3 separate regions of the Homo sapiens genome follow, and regions 1 and 3 are each reported to be linked to region 2. Evidence: microRNA targets listed by miRTarBase, many of them from high-throughput screens and not tested one by one. Region 2 holds a microRNA gene; each other region holds the end of a gene's coding sequence.

What was found. Region 2 holds the annotated microRNA hsa-miR-4455 (AGGGUGUGUGUGUUUUU, at 1,438-1,454, shown strand). A microRNA usually pairs through its seed, bases 2 to 8, with sites in the 3' UTR of a target mRNA and lowers its output. Matches are read on the target gene's strand: a 7mer-m8 pairs with bases 2 to 8, a 7mer-A1 pairs with bases 2 to 7 and ends in A, and an 8mer does both.
Region 1: miRTarBase lists COA7 as a target of hsa-miR-4455. The part of its 3' UTR that is shown has no 7-base or 8-base seed match.
Region 3: miRTarBase lists ZMIZ1 as a target of hsa-miR-4455. Seed matches in the 3' UTR shown: 7mer-m8 at 2,564-2,570, 7mer-A1 at 1,977-1,983 and 7mer-A1 at 1,730-1,736.

Annotation. Positions count from the first base shown.
Region 1 is chr1:52,685,083-52,688,082 of GRCh38, forward strand. COA7 (cytochrome c oxidase assembly factor 7) reads right to left here. Exons shown (of 3, transcript NM_023077.3): 3 at 1-3,000. The coding sequence ends at 2,638. Among named protein-coding and RNA genes, the nearest start is that of COA7, 12 kb to the right of the region's middle. RefSeq lists a silencer at 2,881-3,000.
Region 2 is chr4:184,936,527-184,939,874 of GRCh38, reverse strand. MIR4455 (microRNA 4455) reads left to right here and starts at 1,435; the gene lies at 1,435-1,492.
Region 3 is chr10:79,312,196-79,315,543 of GRCh38, reverse strand. ZMIZ1 (zinc finger MIZ-type containing 1) reads right to left here. Exons shown (of 25, transcript NM_020338.4): 25 at 1-2,902. The coding sequence ends at 2,795. Among named protein-coding and RNA genes, the nearest start is that of PPIF, 34 kb to the left of the region's middle. RefSeq lists enhancers at 2,007-2,506, 3,264-3,348.

The DNA.
Region 1 (3,000 bases), not on the chromosome of region 2:
ATGTGCTGGTTTTTGTGTGGACATGTTTTCAGTTCCTTCAGGTAAATACTAAAGAGCAAGATTGCTGGATCACATGGTAAGAGCTTACCTAGTTTTTGTAAGAAACTGCTTAACTGTCTTCCAAAGTGGCTGTGCCATCTTGCGTTCCCACCAGCAAGGAATAAGAGTTCTGGTTGCTCCAACTTTCCCAGCATTTCATGCTGTCGGTGCTTTGGATTTTGGCCATTCTAATAGTTGTATAGTGGTCTGTTGTTCTAACTTGCATTTTCCTGATGACATGTTATATGGAACATCTTTTCATATGCTTATTTGCCACCTGTCTATCTTCTTTGCTGAGATATGTTAAGGGTTTTGGCCTGTTTTTAATCAGGTTGTTTTCTTACTGTTGAATTTTAAGAGTTCATTGTGGTTTTTGATTTACATTTCCCTAATTAGTGATGTTGAACATATTTTCATGTTTTTTGACCTACAGTTTTGTGTGTGTGTGTGTGTGTGTTTTTTTGAGACAGAGTCTCACTCTGTTACCTGGCTGGAGTGCAATGGCATGGTCTTGGCTCACTGCAACCTCCACCTCCTGGGTTCAAGCGATTCTCCTGCCTCAGCCTCCTGAATAGCTGGGACAACAGGTGCCCACCACCACACCCAGATAATTTTTGTATTTTTAGTAGATACGAGGTTTCACTATGTTGGCCAGGCTGTTCTCGAAATCCTGACCTCGTGATCCGCCTGCCTCGGCCTCCCAAAGTGCTGGGATTGCAAGCGTGAGCCACTGCACCTGGCCTAGTTTTGTTTTTGTTTTTGAGACAGAGTCTTGCTGTGTTGCCCAGGCTGGAGTGCAGTGGCACAGTCTCAGTTTACTGCAACCTCTGCCTCCCAGGTTCAAGTGATTCTCCTGCCTCAGCCTCCGAAGTAGCTGGGATTACAGGTATGCATCACCACGCCCAGCTAATTTTTATATTTTTAGTAGAGAAAGGGGTTTCGTCATGTTGGCCAGGCTGATCTCGAACTCCTGACCTCAAGTGATCCACCTGCCTTGGCCTCCCAAAATGCTAGGATTACAGGCATGAGCCACCACGCCTGGCCTGACCTAGTTTAAGCACACCAAAAGCTACTTTACATTTTTAAAAAGTGAATTTGATGTCTTTTGAAATCTCCTCTGTGCACTTGGGGAAGTCCCTGTCCTCTATCAACTTGAGAGGCTGGCTGCTGTGCTCACAAGCCTTCATTTACACAGCAAGCCTTCCTTTCAGGACGGCTGCAAAACGGAAGCCTAAAACAGTAGATGGTGACAGAATGGTATTGTTACCAGCAGGGAAATGGCAAGCTCGCCCCCTGGTGACAAGCTGGGGAGACAACAGAAAAAGCAAATTTTTTTTTTTTTTTGAGACGGAGTCTCACTCTATCGCCCAGGCTGGAGGGCAGTGGCGCAATCTCAGCTCACTGCAAGCTCCGCCTCCCGGGTTCAAGCAATTCTCCTGCCTCAGCCTCCCCAGTAGCTGGGACTACAGGCGCCTGCCACCACGCCCGGCTAATTTTTTGTATTTTTTAGTAGAGATGGGGTTTCCCCGTGTTAGCCAGGATGGTCATGATCTCCTGATCTCGTGATCCACCCGCCTTGGCCACCCAAAGTGCTGGGGTTACAGGCGTGAGCCACCGTGCCCGGCCACAAATGTTCTTAAAAGGCACAACCACCACAAAGAACATACTCTCTACGGTACCTGGAATCTGGAAAGAACACTAATTAACACAAACCGTAGGTCACTCAAAATTGTTCATTCACAGGGACAGTTAAAAAGGCTCAGTTCCAGGGGACAAATGTGTCACAAAGTCCTTGCTTACAAACTCCTAGCTGAAGCTGCCTTGGGAAGAATCTGCTCCCTCAGCATGATGGGCAGTGCCAGGCGACTACACTGGAGGTGCTAATTTTTAACTGCCAATGTCTCTTCTAGACGATGGCAGGCTGATGTTTCATCTTCTTCAGCAACCCTGAAGCATAACAGCCTTTAAGCTGTATGTTGCACGTCCCTCTTGATCTCTGTGAATTTACTGAAAGATGTGACTCTAAAGGCAAAACGAAGCCCACACCAATGATTATGTAAGTCAGAGGGTGGTAGTTGTGACTATTTAACTGTTCTTAGTTCTTTAAGACCTCAATTACGTAAACCAAGATACGTTCTGATTTTCAAGCCATCCTAACCAAAATAATAATGATGAAAATGATGACAGCTGATTCCTTTAGGCCCCGGGGCTGCTAATTTTTCAAACTTCCTGCTATCCTCCCTTCCCTACTACCAATCTCCAGGGCTCTCTAGTTTGCTCCTATTTTTCACAGAGTTGCCAGAGTTTGAAAACTAAGACCCCCATAAACATGGCTATCTTCACAGAACATCCAGATGAAGGAATATTGACTGTAATAAACATTGTACAGAACACCCAGATAAAGGAATATTGACTGAAATAAACATTGTAGGCTATACTCCAGTAGCTGGGGCAATGGATCCATGTAAATGGAGCTACAAATTCAAGTCCCAAGTTTTTTTGCTCCAGCAGGTTGACCTTCAAGGGCTGCATCAGTCTTCAGAAACAGGAGCTGCCAGCCTCAAGCAGTTTGTTGCCTGGGAGGGAGGGTGGACCACATTACCCAAATGTTAAGGGTTGGACACCTTTCTGCTGTTCTTTGTGTAGCTGCTGGGCTCGATTTTTTAGCACCTCGGCCTTGGCCTCATCCTTATCAACACCATCCCCCAGCTTGTACATGCGACTGGCATTGGCACAGGCCCAGATATGACCCAGGTCACAGGCTTTCATGGAGTATTTACATGCCAGGTCCATGTCCTTGGGAAAGCCTGGGGCACCCTGCAGGAACATGGCACTGAGGTTGAAGCAACTGGAAGTATAGCCACCATCACAGGCCCTTGTGTAGTAGTCCCTGGCCTTTCCCAAGTCAGGCTGGCCATCCTCATTAACCTGTCCATCATGTGCCAGGAGGCCAACGTTGTG
Region 2 (3,348 bases):
TCACGCCATTCTCTTGCCTCAGCCTCCCAAGTAGTTGGGCCACAGGCGCCTGCCACCACGCCCGGCTAATTTTTTGTATTTTTAGTAGAGACGGGGTTTCACCGAGTTAGCCAGGATGGTCTCGATCTCCTGACCTCGTGATCTGCCCACCTCGGCCTCCCAAAGTGCTGGGATTACAGGTGTGAGCCACCCCACCCAGCCAGAATTCTATACATAGTCAAAATATCAATTAAGGGCTGGGTGTGTTAGCTTACACCTGTAATCCTAGCACTTTGGGAGGCCAATGTGGGCGGATCACCTGACGTCAGGAGTTCGAGACCAGCCTGACCAACATGGTGAAACCCTGTCTCTACTAAAAATACAAACAAATTAGCCGGGCTTGGTGGCGGGCGCCTGTAGTACCAGCTACTTGGGAGGCTGAGGCACAAGAATCACTTGAACCTGGGCGGCGGAGGTTGTAGTAAGCCAAGATCACGCCATTGCACTCCAGCCTGGGCGACACGGCGAGACTCTATCTCAAAAAAAAAAAAAAAAAAAATCAATTGAGTATGAGGATTGAATAAAGACATCTTAGAAAGGCAATGTTCCAGATATTGTATTTCCTATGCACCTTTATTCCTTCATAGTAGGAAGTTGCTAAAAGATATGCTTCACCAAGATAAAGGAGTAAATCAGGAAAGAAGACGTACAGGAAACAGGAGATCCAACATGAGAGAAGTGAAGGGAATTCCCAGGAAGATGGAGAAGTCCCAGGTTGACAGTTTGGCCCCAGTTGTTGAGAACGGTCTAGACTAGGGGTCCCCAACTCCTGGGCTGTGGACTGGTACTGGTCGGTGGCCTGTTAGGAACCGGGCCACACAGCAGGAGATAGATGACAGGTGAGTGAGCATTACTGCCCGAGCTCAGCCTCCTGTCGAATCACTGGTGGCATTAGATTCTCACAGGGGCATGAACCCTACTCTGAACTGCACATGCGAGTGGTCTAGGTTGCATGCTCCTATGAGAATCTAATGCCTGATGATCTAGGGTGGACCAGTTTCATTCCAAAACCATCCCCCATTGTCTGTGGAAAAATTGTCTTCCATGAAACCGGTCCCTGGTGCCAAAAAGGTTGGGGACTGCCGATCTAGACTGAAGTATGTTGGAGAATCTGGGAGAGATTTTGTGAAGATTGGATTGATAAGATATGTGATGCTCTGACTGTCTTAAGAGGATGTTTGTATAATTAAGTGAGTTTGTGTTTGAATTAGTGATAAGCATCAATAATAATAATAAAATTTTAATCCAGGGAAGCAAAGAGTGGCTAGGATAGGAAAAGTCATTATAGTTTGATGCATGGCTTAGTTTAGTATTTTCATGGTTGTAATCATATAAATGCTCAACAAAGAGCTAACAAAAATTATGATATAACCAGATTAGAAAGATAAGCAGATGAGAAGGGTGTGTGTGTTTTTCCTGAGAATAAGAGAAGGAAGGACAGCCAAATTCTTCATTTGCAAAGGGATAAGCCAATAGATGAATGCATAAAGCTGAAAAATCAAGGAAAGCAATATAAGCATTTTATTTAGAGATGTAGAGGTTACTGACAATAGCATTAGCTAAGATAATTGAAAGTGGTGTTTCTGGAGAAGAGGCAAGGAGCAACTACTATTTGTGTTAATGAACATTGTAGAATTGTTTGGCTCTATAAAATTCATGCTTGTATTACTTTAATAAAAGTTAAAGTAAAAATATAAATAAACAGCAAAAAGCTTGCATAGCACGCCACTCTAAACTAATAAATGAAACTAAGTGATGAACATTTTATAGCATCTGATTTCAATCAGCATCATTTGAAGCGCTTTGAGTGCAGAGTCAGCTCAGCATCTATCCCGGAAGAAAAGCTCGGCCCTGGTGCTGACAGACACAGAGAGGAAATGGAAAGCAGCACCCCGCGGAGTGGCAGAGGGCATGGCTGGATAGGAGCATCTGTCTGCGTTCATCATTAGACGCCAGATGTAACCTGGAGTTTCAGCATTAAATGTTTATATGAAATGATGCCGAGGTGGAAATTTTGCCTTATAAAGTAGCTTATCTTGGGAACAGAGAGTACTATAAAAAGATGAATAAACGATTAAATCAAGGTCCAGACATGAGCTGATTTTTCTTAAAAGCAGTATCTTTACAACTTCAGAGTTTGAACTCTCTGATGTGGAACCAAGCCAAAAATAGCACAAAGAAAATATTGACCATGAGAGTGGTGACCTGGCAAGCTCAACACTGTCCACCTGTTAATCACTTGTCCCTGTTGATTTCAGCTTATGACTGCATACTTTCTAGCCTAATCCTACTGTTGGTATACTCAGGTGCAATAGAAGTTAAAGAGTGAATAAATCAACCTACTAAAAGAGATTCATGGGCACGGGGTGGGTGGAGAACAAACATATTACATTCCAAAATTCCTATGGCTCAAAGGATCAACTACTAAACAAAGCATGTACACCTGAGCCACTGTGGGAGCCAGCATGAAACACTTCCAAGGAATGAATTCAAGGAATGCAATTAATTCCCAAGCTCTTTTTCCCCAAAACTCTATTTTTGTTTCAAGCTAGCATTCCCATACTCTGTTCAGACTTTAATTCCATACTGTAATCTGTCCAGCTTTGGTAACCACCCAGCTGTAATTTGAACTGGCTGGTCAACAAACCAAACACCATCAAAGATTCTCATTTGTCTTGCTAAAGTCAAAAACACTGAAGATATTTAAATGTAAATATAATCTTTTACTGATCACACAATCTCAGGGAACTTTTCCCCCTTTGCATAGTGTCACAATTGGGGTTCAAATTGTGAAGACCAAATGTGTAACTTATACAAAAGTAATCACAATAGTTTGTTGCAATAGAAATGAGCTGTTCTGTGCATTGCTGACAAGCCACTTTTTAAAGTTTACTTTTAAATGTATGTATAGTAAAATTCACTCTTTTTGGTGCACAGTTCTTCAAGTTTTAACACATACATAGATTCAAGTAATTACCACCACAGAGAGGATACAGGACAGCTCTATCATCCTATACACCCTCGTGCTGCCCCACCTGGAATCCCTGGGAACCACTGATCCATCCTCTGTCCCTAGTCCGACCTTTTCCAGAGTGTCATATAAATGAAGTAATTTGGGATGTAGCCTCTTGTGCCTAGCTTCTTTCACTTAGCATAATATATTTGAGATTCACCCATATTATCGTATCATATTGATACAGCTCTGATGAATGGAGGAATACCAGGTTCTTCCTCTCGAGTTGAATTGGAAAAAACGACACGGACACACCTGGTGTGATTTTAAGGAGCAGAGAGTTTAATAGGCAAGAA
Region 3 (3,348 bases), not on the chromosome of region 2:
CCTGCCTGCTGGCTCCCTGTCCATCTTGCGGAGTGGCGGCAGAAACATGCCTGTGGGCCGGGTGGATGCTTGGCATGGAAAAGTGGCTTGCAGAGGCCTCGTTTTTGCTGAGGTTACTTATGGCTCCAAGTAGTCGTCCGAAAGGATCAGGGAAGGATCTCTCCAGAGTTCAGGACCATCTCTGTTTATGGGCGTTGTCTACCTGCACCTGTCACAACCTGGGGCTTGCTCCCGCCCCGGATGCCTCTGCACCTCCCTCACACCCTGGCCTGGCTCCCAGAGCACTCCGGAAGAGCTTGTCTCCAGACTGCAGGCTGTAGGCACCACGCACGGTTCAGAGCCAGCCGGAAGGGAAGCTCTGGGCCGAGCTTGCTGGTGGAGGCTTGCTGGAGAGGGGACCCAGGAAACCCGCCTCAGGTGCTGAGCCCAGAGATGGTTGCAGGAGGTGCCCGGGGCCTGGGCTGCAGGGAGCATCTCGACTCTCCGCACTGGAAAGCCGTGGATCCACCTGTGAGCAGAGTGTGGACACACCCTGATAAGAACCAGAATGAATCCCAGGCCTTTCTGGGGCAAAGTATCAACGCAAGAAGCAAGAACTCCTAAGGAAGGCATCTGTAAGTCTGTCTGGAGCTTAATTCCCAGATGGTCTGACACAGGGCGTGGCCACTTGCCAGGCCACAGACACTGGGCAAGGGTGGCCACATGCTACCTGGCGTTGGCTTGTCCCTGCCAGCTGACTGAGGGATGGCTCTAAATAGCGGGCTGCCCGGTCTTCCAACTCCCAGCACAGCCGCCCATTCTGTTCACCCCTTCAACTGTACAAATAGCCCTGGTTGCTTTTTTTGTTTTTGTTTAAAAAAAAAGAAGACTCGGTCTTTGTCATTGAGTCCAGGTATTTTAAAAACACCAGCAAAGGCTATAACCAGGTCATGAAAATGTTGAATATTATCAAAGACGATACTAAAATATTCACAAAGATATTTACAAAAGCGATTCTTAAAATAATTGATTTGCATACTGAACAACACGCTATTTGAAAAAACCTCGACAACGGGACAAAGGAAGAAAAGGGGCCGGGGCAATGGCAGCTTTCCTACAGAAAACCTTGTGCCGTCTGGGACAGTGACTGGAAGTCAACAGCTGGGGCCACCTTTCCGGTAAAACCCACAGAGGAGAGCTGGGGACCACCCACAGCGGACGGGAGAGCAGGAAAGGGCCCCAGGCAGCAGCCGGGAAGGGCGCAAAGAATTTACAGATGGGACCCCAGTGACGGGACAACCTGGCATCACCCTAGGCCATGTGGCTCACGGGGCACAGACCAGCCTGAAACAAAGTGAACACAGGACAGGCTCCCCAGGAGGCCCTGGAGAGTGGTAAGCCAGATGGAGCAAAGCGGTGGAGGGAAGGCCAGAGGCTGCTTTTGCTTGAGTGAGCAGGAGTTTGGGTGAGATTGTGATGGTGGAGGAGTGCAGGCAGGGTAGGCTGGCAGCCAAGGGCAGTGTCTGGGGCAGGCCCAGAAACACGCCCCCCTCCCCCCCATGCCTGCAGGTACATACTGGTGCACATGTCCATGGCCTGGGCTGCAGCCGGGGGCAGCTTGGAGCACAGGGACAGAGGGAGGGGCTGGACAGACACCATTGCCCTGGGCTCTGGTTTCTGCACCTCCCCGGCCTTTCCACGCACTGCCCTTGCCATCTGATTGGACAAAGAGAACTAGGACAGAGGGAAGTGGGTGTCCCACGGAAGTCTTGGAGAGGTGGCAGGAGAGGGACTAGGAGAAAAACAGAACAGACGGAGAGAAATGGTTTGCTTGCTGTCCAAGAGCAACGTTCCTTTTCTCCAGGTGACTTCATAGCTTTAAATTGTTGCTGTTTAAAAAGAGAGTGGCTTGGAGCAAAGTTAGAAGTTGCCGCTCCTGTTTGCTTCTGACAGGTTATATGCCCGCGCCCCCCAACCAAGGGCACAATCACTTTGGTTGGGTGTACACCTGCTCTCTCTGTTCCCCAAGCCTGGGCCCTGTCTGAGCTTGGAGGTGGAGCCTCAGGGACGTCCTGGCTCAGAAGATGTCCTGGCCCTCTTCCCCACCAGTCCCCAAGCAGGAATGGCAGACCCCCTCTCAAACACAGACTCTTGTCCTTTTTCTCTGCTTTCTGAGTGTGTTTATGGGGTATCTTGGCTTATAGGTCAGGGGTCAAACCGATGACCCCTGGCCCCCGAGAGACGTTGTCTTTCCCAGAGGTTTGTGCTTTTCTGTGGTGGGTGGTGGTGGGTGGGCTGGTCTCACTGCCACCAACTGCCAGTGCTCCTCCAAGGCTCGGGGCCCATGCTGGGGCCCGGGGGCCTTCTCAGGCTCCACAGTCACTGGAGGGAGGCTCTGGACCAGGAAGCAGGGAGGCAGGGTTACAGTCTAGAAGATGGAAGAACCTTGGGGACACTGGAAGGTCATCTGGAATCGGCACACGCGGAGGGACCGGGAAGCCGCATCAGCGTGTGCCCTCTTACCGGGCTGGTTCCTCTCGGGAGGGTGGTCTTCAGGCCTGCGCTGGGCATGGGCCCAAGCCAAGGGTGTGGAGGTGGGACGTGGGCTCCAGACCCACACAGCCTTCCTGGTGCACTGGTGCACCCTCCCTACCCCTCTGTTCTGAGAGGGCTGCAGCGGGGGAGGGCTCCCCGCCCCACAGCCCGTGGCTCTGGTGCGGGGCGGTCTGAGGGCACAGGCTCCCAGGTGGAAAAGTGTGTTGGGTAGGTGGGGTAGGATGCAGAGTGTGGAGGGATGGCCCCGACCGGGTGGCCCTCAGTTGTTCTCAAATAGAGACAGGAGGTCATCGTTACTATTGCTCGGCAGGTCGGGGGGGTCCAGATAAGACAGGAGCTCGTCAGGATTTGTGAGTTCGGGAAGGAGCTGGAAAAGAAGGAGTAATGAAGTTCAGATGAGGTGTGCCTGAGAGGCAGGCCCCGGGTGAGGAATGCAGGGGCGCCCTGGCCCGTCCCCCTCCACCTGCCTCTCAGGACCCTAGCCAAAAAAAGGGGTAGAGAACAGCCTTGGGCTTGGGCCTGCCAGGTATCCCCACACATACCCCGGCCACTGCACCGAGTGTGGGGCACCCCCATGCTCATTTCAAGCCTCAGGATTGGGACCCGCAGCCCACCAGCTGAGGCCTGAGCAGGGCTGACCCTTTTCAGGCATGGACTTCAGCCCTAACCTGGGAAGGCCCCATGGCAGGTCACTTGGGCCTCCCAGCTGAAATCACATGCTTCACGTGTAAGCACAAGGAGGTGGGCTGGTGGGAAGGCGGGAAGGCGAGTGGTTCCTGCACCGCCCCCAACCCCCCAACATCCCTCTTCTCA